Linked DNA regions of Homo sapiens: regions 1 and 3 are each linked to region 2. The links come from fine-mapping of genetic effects on gene expression. A gene starts in region 2. Each other region holds a variant in brackets. All regions are shown on one strand. Distances are between the middles of the regions. Region 1 overlaps ZMAT4 (zinc finger matrin-type 4). Region 2 holds the start of ZMAT4 (zinc finger matrin-type 4). Region 3 overlaps ZMAT4 (zinc finger matrin-type 4).

What was found.
Region 1: its variant is fine-mapped to the expression of ZMAT4 in whole blood (TOPMed, PIP 0.99).
Region 3: its variant is fine-mapped to the expression of ZMAT4 in thyroid (GTEx, PIP 0.90).

Annotation. Positions count from the first base shown.
Region 1 is chr8:40,685,179-40,696,053 of GRCh38, forward strand. All of the region lies in intron 4 of ZMAT4 (zinc finger matrin-type 4), which reads right to left. Among named protein-coding and RNA genes, the nearest start is that of ZMAT4, 210 kb to the right of the region's middle. The variant C/T (reference allele first, on the strand shown) is at 6,595.
Region 2 is chr8:40,891,053-40,901,927 of GRCh38, forward strand. It overlaps ZMAT4 (zinc finger matrin-type 4), which reads right to left and starts at 6,774. Exons shown (of 7, transcript NM_024645.3): 1 at 6,631-6,774.
Region 3 is chr8:40,791,679-40,802,553 of GRCh38, forward strand. All of the region lies in intron 2 of ZMAT4 (zinc finger matrin-type 4), which reads right to left. Among named protein-coding and RNA genes, the nearest start is that of ZMAT4, 100 kb to the right of the region's middle. The variant G/A (reference allele first, on the strand shown) is at 4,758.

The DNA of each region.
Region 1 (10,875 bases), 210 kb before region 2:
ATCAGATGTAAGGTAGATGGGGCTACTCTGCTCCATCATGTCAAGTCCCTCCCATCACCAAGATTGAAAGAATTCAGAGTATTAAATGTAAAAGCAAGAAGGTACCCTAGTCCCTGAGGGCTTGAAGACCACACCCCTACACCACTGCTTCTCCAATTGAGCAATGAGGCTGATGAACAAAGGAGCACTGCAAAGGAGGAAGTCAGTTTTAGGGTACATAAGACTTGCAGACAAAAGTTGGAAAATCCTTAAGCAAATTCAGTCCCTAGGGGAGCAGAAGCCTACTTAGAGCCTGAATTATTCTGCTGTGTCACCCACAATTATTAATTTAACTATGGCTTGGTCAAAAATTGCATACTTCATTATTGCCATGCAGACACAGATGGAAGGGAGCACATGAGACAAAATATGAATGATTTATTTTGAGGGATTTTTTTTAGGACAAGTGTATCATTAATAGCCAGTGAGGATGTAGCTGCTTTAAAACCTGCTGCTCCAAGTGTGCACCACCCACCAAGACCATTCAAAGCACTAGGCAGCTGATTAAAGAAGCCCATCTCAGGCCCCAACCTCGACCACAGGATAAGAATCTGCATTTTGCAAGAGGCTTGAGTGACTCATATGCAAATTAAATTAGGAAAGCACTGGATTAGGTTCCTGTCAGAATCACCTTGGGGATGTTTAGACACTCAAAGACTCCAGACCCACTTAGGCCACTGAGCTCAGAATGGCTTGGGGTGGGGCCCAGCCACGATAGATGTTAAAGCTTTGCAGGTACCTCCAATGGGCAGACAGGACTGGGAACCCTCAGACTGGAGCAACAGCGTAGGGATGGGCTTCACTTGCACCTCAGCCATACCAAATATTCATATAGTCATGTTTCATTCATTCAACTATGTTCTGGCACTGTGCCCTGCCTTAGGTATAGAGAGCCATCCATGACCTCAAGGAGCTTAAAGTCTGAAATAGACATATTTTGAACTAATTTTACAGGACTATTTTATTAAGATGTATTAATTCTACAGAAGTCTATGTACTTAAAAAAAAAATCACAGGCGAGGCACGATGGCTCACACCTGTAATCCCAGCACTTTGGGAGGCTGAGGTGGGAAGATTGCTTGAAACCAGGAGTTCAAGACCAGCCTGGACAACATAGTGAGACTGCACCCCCAGCTAATTGGGAGGCTGAGGTAGGAGGAAATCTTGAGCCCAGGAATTCAAAGCTTGAGTAAGCTATGATCACTCCACTGTACTCCAACCTGGGTAACAGAGTGAGACCCCTGTCTCAACGAAAAAAAATTGAAAATTAGCCTGGCATAGTGATGCACGTCTGTAGTCCCTGCTACTCGGGAGTCTGAGGTGAGAGATTCCTTTGACCCCAGGAAGCTGCAGTGAGCCGTGGTTGTGCCACTGCATTCCAGCTTGGGCAACAGAGTGAGTCCCTGTCTCTACAAATTAAAAAAAAGTAATAACAATTTTTAAAAATCATAAGAGCAACAGGTACAAAGAAAATAATATCATGAAATATCATTTTGAAATAAAACCAAAACCAGTTTCAAATCACAACTCTGGTGGGTTATTTTACCTACAGTGAGAATGTTTCCTAAAATAAAATGGGGCCAGTGGTTCAATTTCACAACCTTGTTGTGAGGATTAAAAGTGTCTGTTTGACAAAAGTTACTTTGCAGGCATCTTGACCACAGAGAAAACTAAGACTAGAACCCAGAGCCCCTAACTGCTGCCCTGTGTTCTTTCCTCAATCCCACATTGCTGGGCTGTGAAGAACATGAGGCGGGAAAAGTGGTTGGTAAGAGTGAGTCAGAAAAGTTAGTGCAATGGTGGTGGCATGTTCCTGTAGCTGGTCGTAAGTTTGCTGACACTCCAGCAGTCAGAGATTCCTTCAAAGCTATCTACGATGTTTTACAGAATAATAGAAAGTATATATAAGAGGCAGAGAGATGATATGAGGAAGAAAAGTATATGATGCAGGATAAAGGATGTGGAATTACTTAGCCAGAAGACGGGGCACTGAAGTACAACTTAATGACACTTGAGACACATAGAAGGTGACAGAATTTGGGCTGATGGCCAGCTGTTTCCCAAAGCTGCTGAAAAATAGCTTTGAAACACAGAAGAGAGGGAGCTTAAGGGAGCTGATCCCTGATGTGAAGCCATGCTGACTGTCCCGGGGAGGGCGGTTCTGGGAGGTTGGTAGAATTAAGGATTATTAATACCTGATGGGGGAGGGAGAGATATTGGGTAAAGCATACCAGCCAATGAGAAAGAGTTAAATAGAATCTTATTGGAAACAGAAAACATGTTGGTGATTCAAGATTCATGAACTTCTAGGTAGAAGTCATTCTATACCCTACACTCTGGATGAAACATTTTTTTTAAAGCACAATTTTTGAATATTAAATCATCAGGTTTCATCAATTGTATGGACCTCTTTCTCTCTGACTTACTTTGACTACAAATAAAACCTCCCTTTGTATCAAAAAGGATGGACTAAATGTTCATTTACCACATATACTACAGTGAATCCTTCCCTCACCTTCTCATCAGCATTCTTGATATATTAGTTTTGCTAACTGAAAATGAAAGGCCAGGCATTAAGATTTCATCTGCTCTGCAGAGTGAAATGCAAAATGAAGATGCTAATGATTAGCAGTTTCCACTAATCAGGAAATAATCACAGCAAGAATTCACGGGTAGGCCTTCAACCCATCTCCTGCTTCTCAGTTAAGTGATCTCAACAAGTGGCAAGAGAGCAGCAATCCTTCCTTCAGATGACTGAGGACCCTTAGCTTCCAAAGACTTACTGATTTCTAAGTCTTGAGGATTGCACTCAGAATGCCCAGATCATCTCTTCAGCCAGTACCACGACCGAGACAAACTGCTGCCTCCAAAAAGAGTTGCAAAAACTTCATTGCTTAGTCCTTCAATGCAACTGAGCAACAACACCACCACCACAACAAATTTAATAAAATAAAATAGGCCGGGGGGCGGTGGCTCATGCCTGTAATCCCAGCACTTTGAGAGGCCCAGACAGGTGGATCACAAGGTCAGGAGTTCAAGACCAGCCTGACCAACATGGTGAAATCCCATCTCTACTAAAAATACAAAAATTAGCTGAGTGTATTGGCATGCACCTGTAATCCCAGCTGCTCGGGAGGCTGAGGCAGGAGAATTGCTTGAACCCAGGAAGCAGAGGTTGCAGAGAACTGAGATGGCACCACTGCACTCCAGCCTGGGTGACAGGGCAAGACTCCATCTCAAAAGTAAAAATAAAAATAAAAACAAAATAAAATAAAATAAACTTTGTTGGGCCCCTTTAATCTCCCATTTGCAATTCATGGTACCTCAAGATGGCCAAAATACACTTACAAACCTTAGGTGGATTTATGATTAGAGCCATAAACTACTGAGTGCTCAACAAACAATAGAAGAAAATCACTTAGCAGGAAATCCTACACAAGAGAAACAACTTCTCTGAAGGCTGGTAAAGTGAGGAAAATATATTAAATTTCATATTTCTGTTTTCAGTAAGTGAACATGCTAGGTGTCTGTGTCATGTGACAATTTACATAGCAGAGTAACCTATCGAGAAATTAGAAATTATTTTCTTATAGGCTCACTTCATTAAAATGAGAGGAAATTTTGCATTCCATTCCAAAAACGTAGCTAGGCTCTGAAGTCTGGTTTTCCCCACCTCTGGGAGAGGATGAGCAAATGGATTTGTGTTGAGTTGTCTGAGAGGCAAAGGGATCTGAATGTCAAAGAGGAGTATGCCTGGTGTCAAGAAAGTAATTGGCTTCTTGGGGACTAGGAAAAAAGGGAGTTGTAACTGTTGATAGAGACCGGAGCAGCTTAAAAACAGTGTGTCCAAGGTGGTGGGACCTCCCTAGGAATGCCTCCCATGGGTCCTTGGTCTTCTTTTCCATGGTCTAGGTTGAAACGGAGGAGACTTGGCCCATGAAGAAAACAGATGATTAAAATACACTTCTGAGGGAGCCCCAGGGCTGGACCTCCAGCTTGTGGACGCTGAGAACACAACAGCATCCTGGGTGAGATCATCAAGTAGCCAGAGTCCACAGGTGGAGACTTCTCTGAGCCCTGTGAGTGGCACTAAAGAGGGAGAGGGAGGATACTCCAGTGAATGGCTGGGGCCGGTCTTCTCACTAACCTTCAGGGTCAGAGAACAGAAGTAATTTACATGAATTTAGAAAATATTTTAAAATGTTATGTTAATCGCACTCAAATGCCATGCAGTAATTTGCACCTATTGCATCTGATTCTTAAAGAAACCAATCTGAGCATTAAGTGAGAATTTTGAGGCTGATATTTAAAATGTATAGATATTTCAAAGAATGGGAATATAGTTTGGGACATTTACTACCCATTATTTCAGGTGTGATGCTTACTTTATGAGTGTCTTCTCAATTTCATAGACTAGACACTTTTAGGGTTCTTATCTTTAATAGATGATTCAGGAGTTGTTGCCAGAAAATCTTCTGCTTGTAGTTTTTTTTTGAATAGTAATGTGTTTTGCGTATGGATTTCAAGTCCTGACCATGTCTCCTGTTGACAGTTTCAGAGTATGCACAGGAAATTGATTATTTTATTGTTCTACTATTTTCCTTTATAAAAGTATGTCAAAGAATATTTTCTGAAACAAAGGTATAACAACATCATAAAAGATGCTGAGATCATCAACTGTCTTATACCACTATGTGATCACTTAAAAGAGAAAATCGAGTTTACGGTATTGAAAAGGATTGTGAAAATCACCTAGGCAGTAGGCTCCTTGTTAAAATCTTTAGTTTTATCCAATCACTGATCTCTTGTTTCATTAGTCATCAACTATAAAACAAAAAACACAGCAGTCTTAATCTAATCATTGCCCCAAGCTTGCTATGACCCAGCGCAGAAAAATTATGGCCAAAAGAATTCAGCTTACCTCACATTGCTAATGGATTTAAATCCTACTCGCTGTAGGATAGGCATGGACTAACAGGCATGGTTTCTCCCACCAGTGACACCAGGGAAGCATTACTGCAAGAGAAGTGTCTTTGCTGTCAGCCACTTGTATCACCTTGGGTAAATGGTTTCACCCCTCTGGGCTTCAGTTTTCTCACAAGGTATCTGAGATGGCTAAAATAACGATCACTAAGCCCCTTCCAGCTCTGCAAATCTGTGAATCTATTACTTACATTTATGAGCTTAGAAAAGCCAAAACATCAACTGGAACAAATGCACTGATCTAGAGATGATGCCTCAGAACATGCCAGCTTTCCTAATTTAAAAGAAGATGCACCACTATTAAGATCTGCTTGTTTGACAAACTATTGTTTGCATCTATTAAAGCAAGCATCTAGACAGATTATGCCACACAAACCAAATAACCTGATTCAGATGAAATAACTGCTATGGTGTATGAAATCTTATATGCAAATATGAGGTGCTGATTGAACCTAGAGTGCATGTATTATTCAAAATTTGAATTTATGTAACTTTCAAGCAGATATAGACTACCCTGATCTTTACTTATTCAACAGAGAACTTAAATAAGCAATTCTGTGTCTGGCATGGAAATTTATGTAAAAGTTCTGAAGCTCTGTCTCTCTAATTTTCAACAGGAAATAAGGAAAAAAAGAAGAGAACCAATAAGATTTTAGAAGAGGAATATACAATAAACACACTTACAATACATGCAATGAATGAGATCATTGCTTATCCGTTGCTTTTCTTACATTGTTTACTGTTCCTGCAAATAAGAAATACTTGATTTAAAGTGTATAAATATCTGTCTTTGTTGCTACCAATCCACTTAGTGAGAGCCTTGGATTTTGAAATGTTCTATTCAGTAGACCAGCAAATACCAGTAAATCACTTTGCTCCTAGGAGAAATTCAGGGTTAGGTTCCTAGGAACTTGTGGTTACAAGGTTTTGATCAATCAATATACAACCTTGATGTATGTGTGTTTCTGCTTAAATGTGTCTGATTTAATATAAATGTTTGATTCATTAACTTTAAACTCACCACCAATGGCACTGTAACTCATGTCTGAGCAAAGCTTATTTTCTCAGTAAGGTTCATCACAGCCTTATTGTACTTAGGAATATTAGATAGCACTTCAGCACTGCTCTTGGGGGCCATTTTAAATGGCAAAGTCACCAACAAAAGACACAAAATGTGCAAAACACGTGACACTAAATAGACTGCAAAAAAAAAAAAAAAGAGAGAGAGACTTGTTTACAGAATGAGAGCTGAAACAAGAAGGCAGAATGTCACCGTGTTCAACCTCAGCTGGGAATGTGCACTTGGCATGACTCACATTTTTCACAATTCCACACATGTCTGGGAATAACCCCAAAAGTGCCAGGAGAATTAATTTGGAGTTACAAATAAATCACAGTGGATTCATAAATACAGAATCCTCAAACAATGAGGATCAGTTGTGTGTATGCTTACACTTGTATGTATTTACATACAATAATATATCCATTCCACACTGAATTGTGTGGCAGACACTATAGTAAGTATTTTACTTATATCTTCTGCCTTACTATAGTAATTCTGTAATGTGTTTC[C/T]GTCACTTTACCTTTAACAAATTGAGGGCTGAACAGTTAAAACCACCTGTGAATGTTCCCATGGATATAAGCAGAATTTAAAACTGGGTCTGACTTCACAGCCTCTGTTTGTGGCCTCTGGTATTTGGTATATCACCTATTTTACAAAGAAAGGAGTTTTGTAAGATCAAGCAAGTGGACAGGGATGATACATTCCTGTTAAATTGGAAAACCACTGTTTTTTACCATCATACTTGACTAAAATTTAAATAACCAAGGTAACTAAATTTGAAAATAAAACTATAGACACTTAACTGCCTATTATTATTCTAATGTATGCTTCCAATTTTTACACATCGAACAAGTATTAATTAAATACCTACTATGTGCCCAGAGGTACAGTCATGAACAGAGGCAGTAATAACTGTGGTCCCTGCAGAGCACACCTCAGAATGGTTCTCTATCCATCCAGCCTTGTTACTGAAGACACACATAACCCTAGGGCCACTTCAAACTCTGAAGGGTCAAAAATGAAAGAAAGGTTATTGCTAAATTTGATGTCATTACCTGTCAAACTAATGATGTCTGGGAATTATATGAAAGATTGCACTCATATCCATTTTTACTGTGAATGATAGATGTGTTCATAAAAGCTTATAACTGAAACAATAACTTTAAGGGATAATGTAGCCACCAGGATAGATTAGACTCTCCTGTAATACCATACAACCGCAAAGTATCACAATAAAGGCTTATTTCTTGTTCGTGCAAAGTCTAACGCAGTTGAATGGCTCTCTTCCATCTTGTAGCCAGGTCTTAACACACAATCAATTGCAAGTCTGGGGCAGATAAAAAGCAAATGGGTGTCTGATAAGCAAAGTCTCTGCTACAGACACAGATGAATGTTCTTATTAATGCTGGATAGAACCTAACCATTCCAATTATGCATAATCTTAAAAATCACTTTGATGAATGGTGGAAAATGGAGAATAACTATAGTTTAAGGATTTTCTTCCATACATCAGATTTCCTCTCATTCATATTTTCTCCAAAAGTAAGTTTCTAAAGAGAAGAGTTAAATGATGTTTTCTTCAGGATTTTGAATGAGATCTTGCTGATATGGATTTATCATAAAAAAAAAGAGGTTGGGGGCAGGCACAGAATCAGGGCCTATGATCTTTGCCAGCTGCCAGCAGTTAACTGGAGTTTGCTCATATACCGGGTTAGTGTCCCCTCAAATTTATGTCCCCCTAGAAGCTCAGAATGTCAATGTTTTTGGAAATAGGTTTTTTGCAACTGTAACTAGTTAAGCTAAAATGAGATCATATTGGATTAAAGTGTGCCCTAAACCCAATGACTGGGGTCTTTTTTCTTGTTTTCCCTAAGACAGGGTTTCACTCTGTCACCCAGGCTGGAGTGCAGTGGTGCAACCTCAGCTCACTGCAGCATCAACCTCCCAGGCTAAATCAATCCTCCCACCTCAGCCTCCCAAGGAGCTTGGACTATAGGCATGTGCCATCATGCCTGGCTAATTTTTATTTTTTTGTAGGGAAAGGGTCTCACTACATTGCCCAGGCTGGTATCAAATTCCTGGGCTCAAGCAATCCTCCAGCCTCAGCCTCCCAGAGTGTTGGAATTACAGGTATGAGCCTGCTCTCAGTCACATCCTTTTCATCAATCTCTATCCCAGGCACCTCCCCAGCTCCTGACTGGTGCACAGCCTGGGAAGACTGCTTCCATTTTATACAGACACTCACCCTAGCACCCGTTGTGAGTTTCTGTATAAAAAACCCTTTGCCTCCTTGATGCATGTTCCTCAAGATCATCCAGTCTCTAGATCAAGAGTCAAACTTTGTATGTAAAGAACCACATAGCAAATATTTTAGGCTTTGTGACCTGGATCATCCCTGTTATAACAACTCACTTCTGCCATTGCAGCATAAAAGCAGCCACAGACAATATGTAAATGAATGAGTGTTATTCCAGCGGCTCTGCCAAGCATTTCAGAAATTCTAGTAAACATGCACCCATCTGGAGAAGGCGACTCAAGTTGCAACTCATTCTGCAGGAGACCCAGAAGATGCTTGATCAAAGGGCAGCTGGAGGGGGTGGAAAGGTAGTGATTCACAGATCCCAACTGCTCACCCTCATCAGACGAAGTAGCTGGCAGAAGCAATGAGTTGTGGTTCAATTATTCCAACACAGAAATCACCCCAGTTCAAGAGCCTGTTATTCACGGGGGTGGGGGCAGCATACCTGAGCAAAATTGTTTCTCTTACATCTTGATTCAGTTGACTGGATTTTCTGTGTTCCTTTTTTTTTCCTTTTGTTTTTATTATAGAAGCAATTTCAAGCCAGCTTGGTTAATTAGGCAGAGCGGTTCCTAGAGGAGCACAAGGCAGCCACCACGTGGAAGGTGAAGCCCTGGAGAAGCTGCTGCTGGGTGTGGCTGCAGGCAGTAAGGGAGGATGGCCATCCGGACTCCATTCAGGGAGCTGTACTTGATAATTCAGGAGGCCATAGTGTGGGTTTTCTTTTCCAGTGCCTCCTGGTCTTTCTCCTGTACTTGCAGTAACTTGAGAACAAGCCTCCACCTTATACTCTAAGGCTAGAATTCAGGTTCCTGTTTTGTTTTCTACGCGTGGTCTCCAGCCCAGCATGCTTGTATTAAATGGTGGTGTCCTGCCATGGTCTTCTCAGCCTATCCTTTCCTAGAACCCAGGACTGCAGCAGGCCTTGCTACCATCTGCCAGGCTTTCCCAACACCGGCACACTGCTGGTTCATTTGCATGCTCCCTGGGCCCAGAGCCTCCGATGCTGGTGCCATCCTCCTATCAGGCCTTCAACCCTTAACCTGGGACACCCCCACAATGCCTACTTCTGCTGTTGGGACTCAAAACAATATCTCAAAATGAAGACCTGAGCAGCAGCCTCAGAAGTGAAGTTTTTCTCTGACATTCTCCTACCCTCCTGTCTCCCAGTCCCATTCTCCCCCAAGGATAGCCTGGAAACCTGCTTCTCCAAGGCAGATCTTAGAAACCAGAACCGCCTTTTCCCCAAAGCCAGCCATAAAACCTAAAAACTATTGATCTAACTTCCCCTCACTCCCCTCACCTTTCTGTGTAAAAACTGACCATAAAGAAATTATCTGTTTGACCTTGCTGGAGAGTAGGACATGAGACCCCCTTTCCAGAGAGGGTCCTGCCCCACACCCAGAAGGAAGGAGTGCTGCTCAGAGAGGCCAAGAAGAATCTAGACAGACAGGCTTTGCTAGGTGTCCCCACTCTGTCCAACAGCATTAGATCGTTCCCTTTTTGTGCAATCATATTTCTACAAGGCTGCCCTTACTTTGTTGAAGTAACCATAAAAATGGCCAATTTCTACTGCATTTGGGTCTTCATTCTGAAGGCGCTCGTGTACACACATTGCATACATTTGCATGTCTTTTCTCCTATTGACCAAACTGCCTCATGTCTGACTACTTGCTCCCTCTAGTAGGAGGCCTTGCTTTCTCTGCTCCCTGCCAACAGCTGGGTTGACACCAACCCAAGCCAGGAGCCAGTTTAGCTTCCTAGGCCCTCTGATCTGTCTGGTGCTGCCACTTTCCAAGATCCTTTCTGCTCAAAGCAGTGACAGAGGGGAATGGATGGGAGGGCAAGCTGCAGAAGGGGGTATAAGCTGGGTGTGAAGGGGGAGCTGGCGCAAGGCAGGCCCAACCTGAGCCATAGCTTTCGGTGCACCACACCCTATTCGTTCCCTTCTTGCCTATCCAGCAACCTGGTTTCTGCAACAGGGAGGGCTGAGCTAGTCCCATGAACAGCCAAGACTAAGCCATTAAGTAAAGGCTGTACTTCGCTTTTTCCTTTTCCTTTGGAATGTATTGATGATGGCTAACAAATTACACTCGAGTTCTATTTCCCAGATCTGAGGGTGTTTGAATTCAGGAAAACAATTGGATGCTTGGTTGTCTTGAAGCTGTATTTAAATTCACAAAGAACTGGTTTTGCCATGTGGCAATTTTTTTTTTTTTTTTTTTTTTTTTTTTTTTTTTTGCAGAAAGAATAACTCTCCCATTTGCTAATTGATGTGATAAGCAAACACACACCTTCTCCTCTTCCATCATTACCTCCAAAATTTAATTTAACAGTAATATTCTGCTTCAGCAGAGAGAACAAATGGACTGGTTATTAATTCATGGAAAACAGGTAAAAATTTTCCAGTGACTGTTTTTTTGAGGTGTCTATTTTAAGAGATTTGATGGGGAGTAGGTTACAAGGTGAATATGCAACATTTAAGGGAGCA
Region 2 (10,875 bases):
GCTGGATGCGGCAGTGTGTGCTTGTAATCCCAGAGCTTTGGGAGCTAAGGTGGGAGGATTGCTTGAGGCCAGGAGTTCGAGGCTACAGTAAACCATAATTGCACCATTGCACTCCAGCCTGGGCAACAGAGTGGGGAGAGGAGAGGAGAGGAGAGGAGAGGAGAGGAGAGGAGAAGACTTGAGAGGAGAGCAAGGGGGAAGGGGGAGGGGGGAGGGGGAAGGGGAAATTGAAGACAGTGTGGTGATCTCAGTGAACATCATTGTGAGTGGTAAGGACACATGGTGGTCACCACGTTGGCCACCCTGCCTGGTGTATCCCTTGGGTTCTCTCCATGGGCCATGTGGGCTGCTCTGCCCTCTGCAGATGGGCACTGTGGTCCCTGGGTTTCCTCCCTTTCTGGGCTGACGCACCGCTCTTCCCGCATCTGCACCTTCCCAAGCTTGAGCCTGTCTCACACCCTGGGCTCCCTGCCTGGCCCACCAGCCCCTGGCGTTCCCTGGGCCCTCTGCCCCTGAGGCTTCTCCACGCCTTGTCTCAGCCAATCCCTGGAAGGGCACCCTGCCCTGCTGCCTGAGGGGCTGATGGTCTCGCTGGGCCAGTTCCTGCAGGAGAAAAAACCCCTCTTCCTTCTGGTAGATCCCCTAGTGCCTACCTCCGTGCTGGGCACAAAGGCCCAGGATGCCTTTGTTAGCACAGGGACACCCTGGCCAGCCAGGGGCATGGAAGGGTCGCGCCTCCCCACACTCACTGCCGACCCTGAGCTGTCCTCTTGATGCCTAGCTCATCACTAACTGGGGTGCTTTCTTCTTTCTTCTCAGGGCTACACACAGAATGGTTTTATTTTGTGGTGCTCAGTTCACCAATTTATCTTGCTTCCTACTTGGCTCAAACCAACACAAAGCAAAACCCTCCACAGCTGGTCACGGCCTCATTCTCAAAACTGTGAGACTTCCCAACTTCACTGACAGCCTGCCTTTGGGTCCGGAGCTAGGCCACCACGTGTGTGGCGGTGTGCACTCTCCACTGGGCCACCACTCCACCCTCCCTGAACGCCCTCACATGGTATGTTTCATCCCGTTCCGTAAGGTAACAGGTGATGTGTCTTACCCAGAGTGATCCCATGCTATGGGCCCATCTTATTTCATTTATCCAGGGAGAAGTTTGCAGAGATATCTAAAGTCTTTCTTCCCTTCATAAGATTCAGATTAAGTATCTCATTGCTCCCATGTCTCTCTTCTCATCCTCTTCTGGTCTACCCATCCCCTCCTCTCAGCTCTGGTTTCTAGAACACATTCCCGCCACCCTGGCCTCACAGCCACACTCAGGAGCCCCCCCAGGGATGGGTCAGCAGCCCCTCCCAGCCACTCAGCCAGAACTAAAGAGTCATCGGCATAAACAGGGAAGCTGGAGTGGAGTGCATGGTGTTAGTAACAGGCACTCAATAAATATTGCTTAACCACAGGTGTTCCTGTCTTTGCCATTTGATTACAGAGAAATTAGGAGCCTAGAGAAAGCAAATGGTCTATTCAATTTGGAAACAAGAAGAAAATGAACTACAAAGCAAATAACACTGACTTGGGACATGGAGGACCTGGATTCTGGTCCTCCCTCTGCTATCAGCTCGCTGTGTGACAACGCCAAGGCCTGTTACCTCTCTGGGCATCATCTGCCACATCTGGAAGTGAAAGATTAGACTTGATGAATGATTCCCATGCAATAGACAGAATCTGCCAGTCCAGGTGGCAGCTGGTGCAGGGCAGGGGAAGGGTCTCTAGGCTCAGGGAAATAGGTAAGGGTTCTCATCAGCAGAGGGCACAGATGCCTGCACTCCATGGCCCTTGCCTTTCCCTCCTCACAGATCTGTGGCTCCTGCCTCAGCTAAAAGCCCCTGCTTATCCGTTTCCTAAAGATCATCACAGAGGCTCAACAACCTTCCCTTTTTAACATCTCTTGCTGATGGAAAATTCTTCCTCATACCTAATCTAAGTCCATCTGCTGCAATTTCTGTCTATTTTCTCTAGTTCAATCCTTGCTGGAGATGGAGAACAGCTGGTCGCCATCCTCCATATAACATCCCCTCCTAAACCAAAATCAGTTATTACATCAGCCCTCATCCTGTGCTTCTTCTGTTACAACATCTTCCGAGCTGCCCTCATGGATTCCAGCTCTGAAAGCATCGCTGATCACCATGGCCCGCACGAGAGGATGCTCTGCAGGCTCCGAGAGCTTCCAGAGCTGTAGCATCTGCAGTGGGATGTAGGGCTCTGTGGCAAAATCAAGAGAGAAGGTTGGAGCGGAAAGGAGCCTGTGAGAACGTAGTCCTGACCTCTGGCTCTATATCTAAGGGGACTAAAAGTCAGAAAAGGCACATAAGCACATGCCCAAGTTCAAATCTGAGGGATCTAGCTCAAGTGCCAGAGCCCAGATAGTAAGATCACAAAGCCCTGGGACACTGCAGCATGTTTTCAGCATGGGTCAGAGCAGGACCAGCCAGAGCTAAAAAGCGAAGGCCGCCGTTTCCCACTCTGCTCCCCATCCAAACTCAGTCTGCCTCTGCCCAATCCCACTAGCAGGTGCCTGGAATTTGACTGTGCACATCTTTTGTTTTCTTTCCAACTTTTTAATTTTACGTCCGGGGGTACATGTGCAGGTTTGTTATAATGGATAAATTACACGTGGCAGGGGTTTGGTGTACAGATAGATTATTTCATCACCCAGGTAGTAAGCATAGTACCTGATAGGCAGGTTTTTGATTCTTACCCTCGTCCCACCCTCCACCCTCAGGTAGGCCCCTATTGTTCCCCTCTTCATGTCCATGTGTACTCAATGCTTAGCTCCCACTTATAAGTGAGAACATACACACATCTTTGATTTCCTTTAAGAATGTAAATACCTCTGTAAGTAGCAACACTATTAACTGTTCACACCTTAGTATGAATGAGTAGATTTGATCCTTTCCAACTATTAACAGATTTAGGGGTGAGAACAAAGAGCAAAGAAACTGAGAGCACAGCAGGCAAATTTCCCTGCATGCTAATGTTTCCAAGGTCAGCTCTGCGCATGGGGCTGCAGCAGGCGCAGGCCTCAGGACAGTGGCACAGTGAGGGCTTGCGGCTGGTGGGACTCTCCAGGTGTCAGACAGGACTGTGCTTCGAAGCATCTGCCCTGTCTGCCTCATGCAGGTCAGCTGCACCACTCCAGGTGCTCTGGTGAGGTCTGCATAGAACTGAACTTGGGGACAGGATTACCTCATTGCTCCCCTAGGGTAGGCTCCTATCACATTCCACAATTCCTGATGTCCCCTGGTTAACTGTTTCAGGAGTGAGGTGCACAAAACATCTACAATTAGATCTCCACCCTGGGGCCCCCTGAAATGACAGGAAGGAAGAAACAAAAAGTAACCAGGAAAGAGAGGTAACCCTACATGTAGGGTGAATGGAGGAAGGGAGGAAGGGGCACGAGCATGGGAAGGAGAGTGAGTAGGATGAATGATTTAGTCATAATTTGGGCTATGAAATTTTCCTAAATGAAAGATGAAGAGGGAAAATAGCAGAGTGTGGTGAATACATTTCAGGGTCTAGGTTTCAAAACAGCCTTCACCCCACCTTGAATACATGGAAATAGCGTGCTCCAACCTCTTCAACTTTCTGAGGTGTTCCAGAGTGTTTCAAATCTCCAGACACACCTTCCCCTAGGACAGGAAGGGAATTCACACATCCACAGAAAAAAAAAACAAGACATTGTAAAAGCGTTTACCAAAACAGCGAACACAATAGGCGTGCTTATTAGATTTCCCCAAAAGCACAAAATTAAATTTTAAAGCAGAAGGCAAAAAGGCTCTTCTCTGATAAAAATTTTAATATGTTTTCAGTCTTATTTCAGGGGACAATTTTCTTTAACAGAAAAATCAGCACAAAATGACAAGATCAAAGTAGGTTGGCAAAAGATTACTTACTGATATGTTTATGATGAAAAGGGATAACAGAAGGATGACAGGGATGGAGGGACAGAGGGGTAAGGAGAGGACTTTTATTTGCCAGGTAACTCACGCAGGGCTTGGAAAAGCAGAAAGACACAACCCCTTCCCACCATAGTGGTTAAAAGAGAGAGAGATCCAGTTTGGCCAATTGGGAAGAGGAGAAAACGCTGGGTCTGTGGATAGTGCTTATCCAGGGTCCTGGCCAAAGCCATCATGTTTGATGAAATGACAAGTAACACATTTAATTTCCTAGGCATTCATCGGTCCTTGCATACACAAACAGGCACGCAGCTTCACAAGGAGTTAATTAGCCTAACACCAGCAATTAGATTCTCCAAACTGGATCGCAGCAGAGGCGCTGGGTCCTGGGTTTCACACCTCACCCCATCCAAGGTGAAGCTGTAATGAGGGTGTTTTGCACTTTGTCAATTATTTTTCAGCTCCTAGGATCCTTTTTTGGTCTAAAGTTGTTATTTTAATGATCTCTGTTCCGAATGGGGAAATACAAGAAAGAGGATTGAGGAGGAGGCAGAGGGAAGGAAAGCGAGCGCTCCAGCGTGTCCCACTTGTACTTTCCAAGGCCCCCTCCGCCCCCTCCCCCCACACTGCCTCTTCCCTCTGTGCATGACTCACCCTTCAGGAGCTGTTTCAAATGCCTTACTTTTAATGTTTCCTATCACGATAGAAATCCAACAGATTGGCATCAATTAAAGGGAACCCCCAGTTTTGCAATCCTCAAACTCAAAAGCATTTTCTGGTTTCCTTACTGCCTTCATGAAAACCAAGGTGCTCTCATGCAAGATCCCCCACGTGCTGGGGGCTGCCCCTCCTGGGCTCCCTGGGGGTCACGTGCCCTGGAGAGGCCACAGAGGACGACGTCCATGACTAACCATGCCCACCGGCTGGGAAAAGTTCAGCTTCCGCTCCAGGCCCCCCAAACACAAAAAGATTATAATTGGCAGGGCTGCAAAATTGTTTTGTTTACTGTCAGATAGGAAGTACAGAAGAGAACGCTGATGGTATTTTGACACCCCCCCCAAAAAAAAAGTGGGCAGGCATTTTTTTAACCATTGTGAATAGAGTTTCAATAATCACAGTTCCCACCCAAAATAGCTGCCTACAGGAGGTGGAGGAGAATCTGTTGTGGTGGTTAAAGAAAATAAGAATTAAAAAGTGGAAGGGATTTGTGGAGCTGGAGAATCAAGACTGTCATCTGCATCTCCGTGGAAGGGTGCCCTGAGGAAGAGGTGTCACTGGAGAATCCCTCCCAGAACATGCAGTCTTGTCAGGACTGGGAATCGAACTCCCCAGCTGCGGGTTTAACGGAAATCAGAGGGATGAAAATCATCTAAACTCTTCAATGCCCCTAGGACTTGGAAGATCACCCCCAGACTATCAGCTTCAGAGTATCCCGCAGGTAGGCAGCGCAACTGGTGAAGTGCGGTGGGCACACAAGCAGAAGCTGCCTTCGCAGAAGAGGAAGAAAGTTCGAGACCAAGCACATCGCCTGCTTCCCCATGGGTCCCTGCTTCCTAGTGACTCACCTACCTAATATCTCCCTTTAGCAGAAGCCAAAGGCGGAGGAGGCAGGGGGAGAAAGGAGTTTCCCAAGGGTCTCAGAGCAAGAGAGGCCCCTGAGGTCTCGCGATTTAGAATGCTCAAGGGTGCTTCTGGGCTGAACCAGCTGCCTGCCGGGGTGAGCTGTTTTACTTCAAGAGCAGTTAGCAGAAGCAGTGTGGATGGTGACTTCAGCACCACCTCTGCCACAAATGCACCTGTGCACCAAAACAACCTGCGCACCTACACGGAGCCACCCCCTCCACCAGCCTCCACCTCCCAGAGCTGCGGGGATGCTCCGGGCCAGGCACCCCTTCTGGGGACAAGGGTGTAAGCTTCACATGGTACCAAACCGAACTCTCTATCCCGTTTTTTGGCTTTTTCTTTTTTTTTTTTTTTCAGGATACCCCAAGCCTGGAAAGTCTTCCAGAGTTTTCGGGAGCTAATTAATTATGTGATTTCCTCTCCTCTGAGAACTGTTTTGCTGGCGTGTCACCAAGTTGTCACGTAGGTGCCCACCAGGTCAAACAGAATAGACCATCCTCACCCACCCACCCCGGGGAATGTCTCCTTCCACCAAATAAAATGAACTGAGACAGGCAGGAAGGAGGCAGAAGTTTGAGGAAGGACTCCAGTTGAAGGTCACAATAGTTTGGGGAAGGCAGATCAAGGTAATACGAAGGGGACAGACCCTATAGCGGAAAACACAAACAACCAATCACGTTTCTCTCGGAACCAGCCTATCCATGATGGGTGCACCAGGAAACAGCACACCCTGGGATCCAACTTCTTTCACCCAGCACACCCGAATCTCCACCCCAGCCCTGCAGACACCCTAGCCTGAGACCAGACCTATTTAGACAGACCTGAGCGCAGCTAATTAGGAGTAGTAAACAAGCCCATTTCTTGCCAGCGCAGAAGTTTCCCAAATTGTCCGCTTGTTTTCCTCCCAACAAAAGACAGTGATTTCCCACCTTTATCACATTCCCTCCCAGAAACTTTTCTTTCTGCAATCCCTCCACCTAGGCTAAACTGCAAAGCCACTGGCAATGGAGACGCAGGCGCTGCACCCCCGGGACGCAGGCAGAGGTACCTTTTCCGCGAGGCAGAGGGGCCGCCGGTGCCCAGAGGCCAGCTGCCCTGCCGAGCAGTAGAGCGAAGCTGTGGGCTGGAGCACGCTGAGGATTACACGTTCCTGTCTCTGCGACCAGACCTTTCGGCAGCTCGGACCAACTGTGCTAGCGATGCACTTAGCAATTATCTGCTGGCTCCGACGCCCCGCCCTCTGCTCTTGCGATTGGCTCTCCAGTCCCGGGCAGGACTGCATTGGTTTCAGCCGACCTCACTCATTGCTTTGGCTCCTACTATTATCTAAGCCATCAAAGGAAATAATTCCATGTTTCATTGACAACCTGTAAGGCTCTCCTCCAGCCCAATGTGGGGGCAGGACCGGGAGGCCAGTGGAGAGAGGGGAGAGGAGTAGGAAAATGTGGGGGAGCGGGGTGGGGGAAGGAGGTGGAGGGGAGAGGAAAAGAAGGAGAAACTGTGGGGGGGTAGGAGGGTAGGAGGGAGAGAGAGAGAGAGATGGAGCTATCAAGCAATCAGATTCTTGCTCTAGCATTTTAACTTCCACAAAACAGAGCCCATAGCAACAATTTTCTGGCTTTATTTTCCCCCTAACTGGTAAATGTTGCTGAGGGCAGAGAGAATAATAACTATGGGGTGTCTGCCGGCATGAGACAGACTCTAGAAAGCCGAGCAAGGTTGAGGGCTGAAGGGATGGAGTAATGCTTTTCACAGGGCCACCCTGGAGGACATGTGAAGGACATGGCAGATTGCTTGGGGAGCATAGTAGGTGCATACCTGGAGTTTATCTATCAGTACTTTATCTCACAGTCCCCCTCATCCCCCAACCTGAGGAGACAATTTTCCTTTGCACCCTGTCCAAAGAGTCTCAGAAGAGCTATTCTTAAAATCCATAAAACTCTGGAGTTTCTCACTGTTCTCACTGGGAGGTCCAGAAAGCCGAGCATTCTAGAGTGAATGATTCTGCTGGGACCCTCACTTTGGTTTATTCTGACATGGCTTAAATTAATCGCTTAGACTTTCATCAACAACCTACGCACGTGAAGAGAGAACATACCCATCAAAGGGTGGGGACAGCTTAAACACTTTTCCTTGTTCACCAAGAAATCATAAAGTCTCACCCTAGTTAAAATGGCTTTTATCCAAAAGACAGGCAATAACAAATGCTGGCAAGGATGTGAAGAAAAGAGAATGAACCCTCCTACATTGCTGGTGAGAATGTGAATTAATGCAGCCACTATGGAGAACAGTATTGGGGTTTGTCAGAAAACTAAATATAGAGCTACCATCTGATCCAGCAATCCCACTGCTAGGTATATACCCCCAAAAAAGAAATCAGTATCTTGAAGAGATTCCTGCACTGCCATGTTTATTGCAGCTCTGTTCACAATAGACAAGATCTGGAAGCAATGTAAGTGTCCATCAACAGATAAATTAGATGAAGAAAATGTGGTACATATGCGTAGTGGAGTACTATTCAGCCATAAAAAGGAATGAGATCCTGTCATTTACAACACCATGGATGGAACTGGAGGACATTCTGTTAAATGAAATAAAACAGGCATGGAAAGACAAACTTCACATGTTTTCATTCATTTGTGAGAGCTAAAAATTAAAACAATTGAACTCATGGACAGAGAGAATAGAATGATGGTTACCAGAGGCTAGGAAGGGGCGGGGGTGGAATGGTTACTAGGTACAAAAATAGAGTTAGATAGAATGAATAGGATCTGGTATTTGACAGCACAACAGGGTTATTACAGTCAGCAAAACATATTGTACATTTTAAAATAACTGAAAGAGTACAATTGGATTGTTTGTAACAAAAGGAAATGCTAAATGCTTGAGGTGCCAGATACCCCATTTACCCTAATGTGATTATTACACATTGCATGCCTGTATCAAAATATCTCGTGTACCCCATAAATATATACACCCACTATGTTCCCATAAAATTAAAAATTTTTAAAAATTAAGAAGAAATCATAAAGCACAAATTTTGACCTTCCCCTCTCCTTAATGTATTTGTCACCATATGGAAAAGACATCACTTGGCAGCTAAATTTTCTTAACTAGGTAAAATATTTATTATTAATGTTTCTAAAATGAAAGAGCTTTTATAAATCAATAAGTACAAGACCTATAACCCAATTCAAAAATGGCAAAGGACAAAATGGGCTGAATTTTTTAAGAGAGAATTATAAAAGCGTCTTTTAAAGAAAGCTTTTAAAATATCAAATTTCAGATGATCCAGAAACTAACCCTTCAGCCTTCTTATCCTAGGATCTCCATGTCTTTGGTGAGGCTCTGGTCCCAGTCCTGCCCTGGCCTCCCCTGGGGCCTTGAATGGCTGTAGTCCTTATCTTCAGCTGCGTCCTCTGCAGCAAATGGCAGGTGCCCCACTGCCTTGTATGGTGACTTTCTATTTCATGCATACATGCCTGGCTTCCCTAAATACATTTCAAGCCCTGTAAAGACAGAGATGGTATCATGCATATTTTTATCACTCCACAGATAGCACCTAGCACTCAATAAGTGGGCTGACTACTAAAACCCAATTCAAAGCATCCAGGGTGCACAGCCCTAAGCCTCATGCGACCCTCATTCCACTGCAACTACTCTTCCAGCAGAGCAGAGTGTGGAGGGGGCCCACTCTGGAGTCCAAGAGCTAAAAATTCAGGACTAACCACTGTGAAATGCCTGTGAAATGCGGCAGCTCCAGAGTCACTCGAAGCTCTCTGTGTTCTCTCTGGAAAATGAGGCAGGTCTTCACCCAGTACCTTCCTCCTCCCTCAAGCATTTGAAGGAAATGAAAGGATGTGGGATGCACATTTTACTTGTGAGGCATGACCTCAAAAAATGAAGTCCTTTCCATAATGGCTTTCCAAATATCAGCATGAGTAGGAGACAGTGACCGTATATTAGGAATTCAAAACTAGGGCAAGGGATGTAGCAAAATATTTGTTTTCTATTTCATTCCTTTGTCTAGGTGAAATCACACAAAGGCACAATAATGAAACTAAACTTAGCTATACATTTGAAATTGACACTGTCCTAGAAAATCTGGTGTGTTCAGTCATGGTGTAAAAACCATAAATAACACTTTTATTATTTAAGCAGTATGATTTTTACTTTCGAGTGAAAGTAGGCTTCAGCTTTGTGCCTTCATACTATCTCTTTTTCCACCCCCCTTAAGAAAATAAGAGAAATAAACTAAATTATAAGAACTCTCTTGAGTATCTATCAAAGGTTTAGTTGTCCCTGAAGGAAAGGGAAAACATTTCAAGTGATTTTCTAAAATGCTTTGTCTAAAACAGCATGTCCTTACATGTACTTTTTGCCTTTTGAAGATGAGAGAGAGAGAAAGAAAGAGAGCAAGCCTCAAACAGTTGTTTATGTCAGTGTCTTTTAAACTGCCTGGTCATAAAATATCCTCTTTGAGAGAAGGATTCTCCCTTTGTGTCCCATAGATCAACTGCTTAATTCTGAGAGTTAGAGAATGAATATTAAATATGCAGATTCCACTGGTACTTGCATTTGTATTAAATATCAGCTCCATACAATTTAAATTCACTGGGGTATGAAATGTACCAAATTCCATGTTGTGGGCCATACTCGGCAAAGCAGTCCATTTTGATTTAACAGTTTCAGGACATTAATGGTGGGAAAGACTTTTGGGGGTTCCTGTTCCATTTTGAGTAATTAGGGAAAGAATGTGGGTTTCTTTATTAAAACACAAATTAGACAGCAGCCGCCGGAACCTCCATCATTCTTGTGGGTAACCACTTGCTACAACAAATGACCATGACCTACCGTGGGAGGCTGGAGAAATCTTGCATTTACTTGTCCGTGTATGCCATTTTCTCAGTTATCATTTATTTATGCCAAATTCTGTTTCTAAAAGGGAGAAGAGGAGAATAAATCTAGGCAATGCCAAGAAAGAGGAAAATGTGTGAAAACAAGAGGAAAACAAAGGGGGTGACTTTCAACACTACATCTTTGCTTATTGACTTCAGCCCTACAATACCATTTCAATGAAAACATAATATTAGCAGGATTTCTTGAACCTAGCATTGGAAGAATGAAAGGTTGTTCAGAAAACTTCTCCCAGCACAGTCTCCTAAGTAGAGAAACTTGGAAGAACATTTTCATAGCTTTCTGTTCTAGCTGATAGCTGTTGTGAAATCAAACTCCCTCCCCCTCCACCCACACCCCCACTCCCACCATGAAAATCAAACCTGTGGAGCCAGTG
Region 3 (10,875 bases), 99 kb before region 2:
ATAGATTTTTTTAAATAATAGCTATTGACCAACTACGGACTCTAAGACCAGCACACTTTTCACTACACTGAGCAGCATATTCTGCCATGTTTTGTCTTAGCCTGAGAAATCGAAGCTCTCCCTTATAGCCCACAGACAAGGAAGCTATAGGAGGCCAGCCCTGTGCCCTGGTGTCCACTGGCTTGTCAATAAATTGGATAGCTATGAGCACCAGCTAACTTCATCAGGAGGGCCGCTGCACAGCAGAGGGGCCATAACTCCATGTCCGGGTGGGTTGCTTCAAAATCCACCAGTGTTGCTATCCACCCACAGCATGCAATGAGTTCACCTCTTTCTGGGATTAAAAAGACTAAAACTAGCTATGGGGTTGAAACTAGTCTGACTGGACTTTGAGGCAGAAAATACTTTTACATTAATTTTGTATTTCCTTACCTACAAAAAAATCCTATGTTTCACTTTCAATATTCTACATTTCTGTATGTGAGCTATATACTGTGAGCATATGCTGTGTTGAACCATATGAAACTACTATTTTTGTATGTGAAAAAAGGATTAAATATTGGCAATTTCATATGGTTCAACCTTATTTCTTTTATAAACTGACAAAAGTCTTGTTTTATTTTTAAAAAGGAGACTATAAATAGTTATATATTCCCTGAACTGGCCACTTTCCCCTCTCAAGTTCACTAATACTAATATAATGATAAGATTAAAAATCTTGCCATTAGCAACCAAGATATCCTTCAATAGATTAGTAGGTAAACCATGGCACATCCATACAATGGAATAGTATTCAGGAAGGAAGGAAGGAAGGAAGGAAGGAAGGAAGGAAGGAAGGAAGGAAGGAAGGAAGGGACAGAGGGAGGGAGGGAGGGAAGGGGAGGAGAGGGGAGGGGAGGGAGGAAAGGAAGGAAAGGAATGAAAGGAAGGGAGGGAGGAAGTGAAGGAAGGAAGGAAGGAAAGGGGAGGGGAGGGGAGGGGAGATGAGGAGAGGGGAGGGGAGGGGAGAGGAGGAGAGGGGAGGGGAGGGGAGGAGGTGGGGAGGGGAGGAGGGGAAGGGTAGGGGACTGGAGGGGAAGAGAGGGGAGGAAAAGAAAATAACTAAGCAATCAGGCCATGAAAAGACATAAAGAAAACTTAAATGCATATTACTAAGTACTAGAAGTCAATCTGAAGAGGCTGCATCCTATATGATACTAGCTATATAATGTTCTAAATAATGGAAAACTATGGACATGGCAAAAAGATCAGTGGTTGCCTGAGGGGTGTGGGGATGGTGAATAGGCAGAGCACACAGGATTTTTCAGCTGGGGAAACTGCTCTGTATGATACTGTGATGGTGGATACATATTATGTACTTGTCAACACTCATCAAAGATATAACACAAAGAGTGAGCCCTGAGCGCAACAGTGGGCTTTGGGTGATAATGATGTGTCCATGTGGGCTCATTAATTGCAGCAAATGTGCCATACTAATGCAAGATATTAATAACAGAGAGAAACCGTGGTGAGAGGGGGGTACATGGGTACTTTCGCTCAATTTTTTGTAAACCTAAAACTGAGCACAAAAATAAGTCTGTGAATTTAAAAATACAGAAACAAAAAACAAACAAACAAACAAAACCCTACTTTGCCTTTCATTGCCAGGTAAGAAGACTGAAGGACAGTTGAGAGAAGGCACAGAATAGGCCGTGTGCCCCTGGAGGGGGAATGCCATCTTTCGCTGTCCACACAAGGAGGAAGACAAGTTCCAGAGCCACGCTCCATCGATTTTCCAATCGGGCAAGGGCTGACCTTTCTTTCCTAATAGCATGATTTAACAACAGCCTTGAAATCCTTTTGCGAATTTGCTGCTTCCTTTCAAGCGTTACAAATTTTCCATTTGGGGGTGTTTCTAAAGCTCTCGTGATGTTTAATCTCATCTCCAAGTCATGCCGAAAAGTCCAACGCTTGCGAACATTTCCAAGTAAAATGAATTGCTCATGACAAGTAATGTCCCCAATGTTTTCAAACCTGCTGGTCTGTGAGGACCAGAGCCACTGATTTGTATCTATGTCGTTTGTCTAAGCCCTGAAGTTTCTCAAGGTTGAGGGGTCCCCTGAGGTGTGACATCTGTAATTACAATCCATCTGAATTCCTCTTGTCACCTTCTTCAGGAAAAGTGTGACGGACTCGCCCCTCCTTGGGATCTCTTAGTAGAAGCACATATTTGTGTATTTTCTGCCCCAGATCTGTACACTCCTCAAGGACATATGCAAGCTCCCTTCTGTGGAAAACAAAGCATGTTTATTTCTCCCCACCCGCTGGTATTCTCATTCAGTTAAGCAGAATGTCCACTTTCACCAAAGAGAATTTCCCTTGCAATTAGTTCTTTGCCAGCTGCCTTAGGAGACATCAAAAGGCAATTTTTTTAATGTTTTTTTTGGAAATTTTTGAACTCAAACATAAATATCATTTAATCAAATGCACTGATGCATTAGTGTTGATGCATAATGTGGTGCAGAACTCGGATAACAAGCCTCACTTTCTTACAGGGTAAGATGCTTTTAGGAAGAACTGACTTCATGCACATGGATGAGAAATAGCTTGTTGGCACCATAAGCTACAGAGACTCCATGGGCATTTGGAGGCATCAGAATCTCCCCTGACTCAGACATGGAGTTACCCAACACACCATATAGCACTATGTGTCTTGGTTCTGACTACTCATTGAAACCTAGGGCACCCAGAAAGGAAACACACTACATTGCATTTCACAAAGTCTTTCTCCAGCCAGATGACTCCAGGCACTCTCTACAGAATAGCCCACAGTCCTGCTTCTCTATCAGCCTTCTTCCGGGGGAGTTTACTTGGGCTTGGTGTTGCCTCCCTGTCTTAGGGATGGGGGAAAGACAACTACAGAAGAAATGAAGCCCAACAGCAGAGCACGTGGCCTGGTGCAGGAAACCGCAGGGCAGCGTGGTCTGGGTTTTAGCTCATTGATGCTGTGAGACACACACAGTCCCGCTGCCTTTCTAACTCTCCTTTCCCCAGTGGACACAGGTATTCCCAGGTCAGGCATGTCCCTCCCCTGTGGATCAGTTTTCTCCTCTCTGGGTCTTTGTCTCAGCTGGGGACACAAACGGCCAGCTGTCATCGTCAAGGGGTTGTGCTTTTGTGTGGCAATGATTGCGTTCATGTGAAGACAAGGGCTTACAGGTGGCGGGGGAGGGTGGGCATTGGGCAAAAGTGGCAAATGGAATCTCATTTTCCTGACAGCAGAGGAGGACTAGATGGCCCTGGAAGCTCAGAAGAGGGAGGGTGACAGATGCAGAAACACTCTGTCTTAGCTTAGGAACCTAAGACAAAGCCTCAGAAGTCCTCTCTGCACCTTTATTTCTCCACTTACCAATGTCTCATCAGCAATGCTATTCTATGATCCTGGCATTATGGTATAACTCCCCAGACCCTAGTCTAATCACACATCTACTCTGGACTTAGCCCTTACCTTGAAAGCCCTAACCTTGAGTCCATGTTTATAGCCAAGCATCCGATCATTGCAGCTGATTTGGGGGCAAACCTCCAAGAACAGTTGTGGCCAATGGTTTGCACACTCACGTGAAACACCCATGCAAAGAGGCCCTGGCACACCTGACTCCTAAAGACACAAATACAAACCTCACGAGGTCTGTCCATCAGGCAGCCAAGGACACGAATTAAAAGCTGTACTGGATCCTTATGAATACCATGATCACCAGACCATGAGACTGTTTTTTAGTGCAATTTCTGGCCAACATAGTTAAGTCCAGAATTTACAGTTACAGAAATTCAATTCAGAGCCTAGGCTGTCCCTAGGCTGAGAGGAGAATTTAGTATGACACCTGCTTCCTCCCTGGGGGCTCCTTTTATGTTTTGACTGGCTGTACTGATGCATCAGTTGGGAAACTGCTCTCATCAGTGGAGTGGAGTATTGATTTAAAGGTCTGAGACTCAGGAACTCAGGATATAAACTTTCAATCCCCAGATTTATTTTATACTATCCGTTGCATTAATGTTGCATATAAAAATTTCTCCATACTTTATAATCAACATTTTCCGTTCTGCAAATTGCAAACCGATGACATTCTTGAGCATCCAAAGGGATGTTTTATATTCCATTCACTACCACCACAAGCATCATAGCATTTAGCCAAGACACTGCCTAGACCAGTTTTGGTCCCTTCCTGTTACAAAATGAACCTGAAAAGCAAAAGAAGTGCTTAAAATATACCATCACAGCTTCTTAATTTTCCACACTTTCTTCTTTGTTCTTCTTTCCCACTTTCTTCTCACTCAGAGTCTTCAATAGCAACTCTGGTGTGTGAAGAGATAGAGAATAGCAACTCTGGTCTGTGAAGCCCCTCCTCAGAACAACCCAGCTCTCCCCCTCTGGCTGACTCTCAGGGGCTGACGCAGCTACAAAGAAAGGGGACGTTTCCGCTCCATATTTAACCGGCCTTGAAAGCCTGTATATCAACAGATACCCAGTGTGCATCCACAGCGCCCATGCACCTAACAGCAGGCTCCAAGAGGCTCCCCAGGGAGAGGAAACCGGCCCCACCGTTGTCTGCTCTGCTTAAACATGACACTCACCTCAAGGCATATCGCCTGCCATGCCACATTTTCCTTCCCAATAAATGACCCTGGCATGATTTACTCAGATCAGTACTGAAAAATGAAAACAAAAAAACATTGATATTTCATGTCAGGGTGCTTCTTTTTGTGTATTTAGCAGAGGA[G/A]GAGAAAAGCACTTGAGGAAGGAACAGAGCAAGTGCTGAAGTCAGCAACTCGCCAAGTGGCTGTCTGCTAACCAGAACCCTTGAATCTCACCCAGCTCTTTATCACTGTCTCTGTGGTATTTAAAGAAAAGAAAGAAAGAAAGAAAAACTTTCAAAACTGCAGACCTACAGTTCTCCCTTAAATGCACTACTTAGAATGATATCTCTTTCCCTCCCCGGCTCCGCCCCGCACAGCTGCTGCAGAGACTGGAGAGGTGAAGGTGCCTGGAATTGCAAGTCTGAAACATTTTTCACAGTATTCCCTTTTGCTTCTTCATCAGATCTAGTCTGGAATTCTTTCCCCTTTCAGTCAGAGGTCACCTTGTTTTCTCTCTTTCTTCTGAGTGTCAGGGAAACTGCAAGAAGTCCCAGAACAGAAAGCCACCTGCTGTGCTCGGAGATCTCATCTCCTTCCCAGGGCAGGATCCATGCAGCACAAGGCCTTCCAGCCCCATAACTGGCTAACTGGCCCCTCCTTAGCCAGTTCGCCTGATCTTCACCTCCAGGGGCCACAGGCAGGGAATCGCCCCTGGTTAGCTTTCCAGACTCACTCCCCTCACTCTGTGCTCCAGCAAAGCTACACTGCACACCATTTCCATGCACTCAGAGCTCTGAGCTTTTGTGCCATCCACCTGGAGTGTCCTTTTCCCCTTGTCTAACCACTGAACCCTCATTCACTCTGCAGATCCCACCTCCCAGTGCCTCTGTGAATCCGGGCCTGTCCACCACACCACATCCTACTCCACTAGCCACTAACACCAAAAAAAGCACCAGCACCTGTCTGAGCAGTGTGCCTCTGCCGGTGCACTTAGGGCCACTTGAGTGATATGACACTTGTGCCTCACACATTAATCTCTGGCCTCAAGGAGCTCCATGCCATTACCCAGACAGTGCCGACATTACTGCCCATCCTGCGTGCTGGGCCCCAGGCTCAGTGCTTGGCACATTCTAAGAGCCCAATACATCCTTACTGAATTAAAGAGATCACAATTGAACTCAACTGCATTGTCACCTGTCCTTTAACCTCAGACAGTGAAGGGGAGGGGGAGTGAGTGACAAGACTAAGGACGGTGGTATTTGGAGAATTTGCAAAATAACAGGGCCCAGATATTGTAGCTGTGCACATTACAGGACTTCCATGAGCTACAATTTCCTCTAAGGAACAGCATGCAAAATTGAGATATCTACCACTTGACAGGTCATCGGAAGAAAGAAATGACAGGATGCACAGAAAGATTGGTACAGCACTCGGTCCTCAGTAAATGGAAATGTTGCCACCAGTAAGCTTATCAGGCAGGGGATCTGTCGACAGGTCACAGTCTCCTCACCTGCAGCATCCCCCATTTTGAGGTAGCTGTGTTGAACATTAGAACATGCACTAGGACAGGCAGCCTTTGGATATGGGGCAAGACCTTGAATTCCAAGTCAGAACCCTCTAAGGAGTGAGCCAGGCAATTAAGCCAGGGCACTGAGGGGCTGGCAGGTAAGGCAAGGTCCTAGGGAGGCAGTATCAGGTGTCCATGCCCTTCACTCTTCTCCAGGGTCTTCACTGCTCCACCAGGCACAGCCCAGCTTCCTAGCAGGGGAAGCAAGAGGGCACAGTATGTCGCCAAAGAACTGGGTGCAGGGGGAACCTCTACTTCAGGCTAAGCGGTCAGGCTCCTCACTGGCTTTTTCCTGCATCTCCTTGTGATCTAGGAAAGTCTTCAAAGAACTGGAAATCCACACACAAACCAGAGCAGATATGCTCAGGGTCCTGATCTGCAAGTTAATGATCTGCACACATCTCGGAAAGAACTTTCTGATGTTCTCTTCCTCCTCCCCTGGCAAACATTTATCAAGCTCCACAGTAGAATGTGTTCTTGCTGACTGGCATCGCTCTGTTCCAAGGTCCCAATGCCAGGCTCTTTAATGTATGACAACCCACAGCAGGCAGGACATCTTATTTTTCAAGCCCCGCTTGTAGGTTTTATGAGAAAAGACGTTGCTGAAAAGCAGAAAAGAACACTAGAAACCAATAAATACCTCTTACTCCCTGACTGATTCCACTGTGAAGAGCTGCCTTGACTTTCCATATGCTGCATAAATCCACCCCACTTTAGAGCCACAGAGGTCCCTGCTGATGCTCCTGGTAGTCCTGATCACTTTCAACTTCTGTTGGCTCTGACAGAAGAAAACTTCATTGACAAAGTGGATAATTCTTACCTGCTTTCCCAGAGCAGCACTCGGCTGAGATTAATTTCCCTCTGCCTTTATTGCTATTGCTACTATTTCTCAACATTACTTCCTAAGGCTTCGACCTAGATCGACACAGGGTTCTATCAGTAAATAAAACGATGGTTAAACCTGAAGGCAGTTTTAGCAGCATACAGACTTTCCTCCACCTCTCTTCTCTACTCCAAGTTTTTGAACTGTGTTTCTAGCCATTGGAAGGGGCTTTTTTCAGGCCAGTCCCCTCAATTGGGACATATTCCCAGCTGGCCTTACCTTTAGCATCCTGCCTAGCTTCTCTCTTGCTGTGTCTGTCTGTGTGTCCATTTCCATCTTGATAAATAGATAGAAGGATAGATGGCTGGCTGGCTGGCTGGTTGGCTGGCTGGCTGGCTGGATGGATGGATGGATGGATGGATTAATAGAGAGAGAGAGAGACAGAGAGAAGGATAGATGGCTGGCTGGCTGGCTGGATGGATGGATGAATAGAGAGAGAGAGAGACAGAGAGAAGGATAGATGGGTGGATGGATGGATGGATGGATAGATAGATGGATGGATGGAGACAGATAGAGAGAGAGGGAGACAGATAGAGAGAAAGAGAGACAGATAGATATCCAAAACTATATTTAGATATCAATGATGTTTAGATAGTTTAAAACTGTTTCTGTTCCTGTCTGTCCGTCTCTCTCACTCTTTCCCTTTCCGTTCTGATATGTGTAGACAGAGACAGACAAAAGCAAAGACAGAAAAAGAAAGACTAAGGTTTTTTCTTTATTCCAAATTTAAAGATTTGTGCCTCTTTACATTGGAGTTTTATCCTGAGGGCTCTGAGGGCTCTCTGAAGGGTTTTCCATTTGAATGCACAAAATAAAGGCAGATATTTTAAAAATTTAAAACAATTTTTAAAATGTAAAGGAAAATAAAAAAGGTCAGAAACTCAGATCTGCATAAAGTCAGGAAGAGCATGGTTGAGGGTAAAATAAAAGAATTTTTTTTCTAATTGATCTAACAGATAACAATTTGTTCAAAATAATAATAGCAACAATGTATTCAATTGTATAAGTATGTATAAGTGAAATGAATGAAAGCAATAAAACAAGGTAAAGGAGAAAGGGATTAGGACCATTTTGATATTATGAGATACACCAACCATGAAGGGGTATAGTGCTATTTGAAAGTAGACTTGGATTAGTTGTAAGTGAATATTATGAACTGTAGTCCAGGCAATAAAAAGAGTAAAAAATAAGAATAACTAATGTGTTAATAAAGGAGAGAAAATGGAATCATATAAAATGCTCAATAGAAACCAGTGCAAAATAAAAACAGAAACAAAAAGCAAGGGCAACAGATAGAGAACAGTAACAAATATATTAGATATTAATCTAACTACAGTCATTTGCTGCATGGCAGCATTTGAGTCAACGATGGACCACACGCCCAAGAAAAGTTATCAAGGATAAAAAGAGGTATTATGTAATGATAAAGGGCTAATTCTCCAAGAAGACATAACAATCCTTAAAGTGTATAGACCTAATAACAAGGCGTCAAAACACATGAGGTAAAAACTGATAGAACTTCAAGGAGAAATAAACGAAGCTCTTACTATGCTTGGGCACTTCACCACATCTCTATCCAAAATGGACAAAGCCAAAAAGCAGAAACTAATAAGAAAGAACATAAACACAACACCATTAATCAATGGAATATAATGGATATCTATAGACTATCTCATCCAACAACAGCAGAATACACATTCTCAAACTTATTTAGGACATGCATCAAAATAAGCCACATTCTGGCTTTAAAACACCCCTTAACAAATTTAAAATAATAAAAATCATAATAGAAATAATAGAAATCACTATCAGTTCTCAAACCACAGTGGAATTAACCTGGAAATCAATAACAGAAAGATAGTTTAAAAATCCCAAAATACTTGGAGATTAAACAATACACTTCTGAATAACACATGGGTCAAAAAAAACTCAAGAAACACTTTAAGATATTTTGAACCAAATGAGAATAAAAACACAACTTAAAATTTGTGAGATGCAGTAAAGCAGTGTTTAAAGCAAAATTCATGGCATTGAATGCATACATCAGAAAAGAGGAAAAAATTAAAATCAATCACATAAGGTTTTAACTCAGAAAACTAGAAAGAGAAGAAAAAAATTAAATTCAAAGCAAGCAGATGAAAATAAATAAAATTAGAAACAGAAAATTATAGAGAAAATTATCACAACCAAATGCTCATTCTTCGAAAACATGAATAAAATCAATAAGCCTCAAGCAAAGCTAAGAACAAAAAAGAGATGACACAAATTACTAATATCAGAAATTAAAAAGGGAACATTACTACAGGTCTCATGAACATTAAGGCAATAATTTAAAAATGCCATGAAAAATTCTATGTCCAAAAATTTAATAACCTAGATGAAATGGGACCAATTTCTTAAAAGACACGATCTGACAAAAGTCACACAAGAAGAAATAGATAATGTTAATAGGCCTATATATATTAGAGAAATTGAATTAATAATGGCCTTCCAAAACAGAAAGCACCAGACGTAAATGGGTTCACTAATGACTTCTACCAAATATTTTAGGAAAAATTATACCAATTCTCTATGGTGTCTTTCAGATGATACTTTCTTTAAAAAAAAAAATATATATATATATATATATACATATATATATTCGGTGGGGTGCGGTGGCTCACGCCTGTAATCCCAGCACTCTGGGAGGCTGAGGCAGGCAGATCATCTGAGGTCAGGAGTTCGAGTCAAGCGTGGCCAACATGCTGAAACCCTGTCTCTACTAAAAAATACAAAAAATTAACTGGGTGAGGTGGTGCACACCTGTAATCCCAGCTACTCAGGAGGCTGAGGAAGGAGAATCACTTGAATCCAGGAGGCAGAGGTGGCAGTGGGCTGAGATCGCACCATTGAACTCCAGCCTGGGCAACAAGAGCGAAACTCTGTCTTAAAAAAATAATAATAACAATTTCAATAATTCCATAAGCTGCTTTTTAACTCCTTCTATGAGGCCAGCATTACTCTAGTACCAAAATCAGAAAACAGTATTATAAGAAAAAGAAAACTACAGACCAATATCTCCTATGAACATAGATGCAAAATTTTCCAACAAAATATTAGCAAATTAAATCCAACAATGTACAAAATAAAGGATACACCACAACCAAGTGAGATTTGAAGTATGCTAGACTGGTTCAACATTTAAAAATCAATTAATGTAATCCGTTGCATCAACGGGCTAAAGAGAAAAAAAAATCGCATGATCTATTAAAAGATGCAGAAAAAACATTTGACAAAATCCAACACCCATTCATGTTATGAACTTTCAGTAAAATAGGAATAGAGAAACATTTTCTCAATATTATAAAGAACATCTACAAGAAACCTTCAGCTAACATCATACATAACAGTGAGGAATTCAAATCTTTCTTGCTAAGATCAGAAAAAGACAAGAATGTCTCCTCTCACCACTGCTTTTCAGCATCGTACTGAAAGTCCTAGCTAATGCAATAAGGAAAGAAAAGGAAATAAAAGGTATACCTTTTGGGAAGAAAGAAATAAAACTATCCTTCTTCACAAATGACATGATTGTTTTTATAAAAGATCTCAAAGAATCAACAAAATGGCCCCTAGAATTCATAGGTGATTATAGCAAAGTCACAGAATACAAGGCTAGTATATAAAAGTCTATTATTTTTCTATAACCAACAGCAAGTGAAATTTGAAATCAAAATGCAATACTATGAATGTTAGCACACAAAAACTTATTTATAAATATAATAAAATATGTATAAGATCTATATAAGAAAAACTGTACAATTTTGATGAAGAA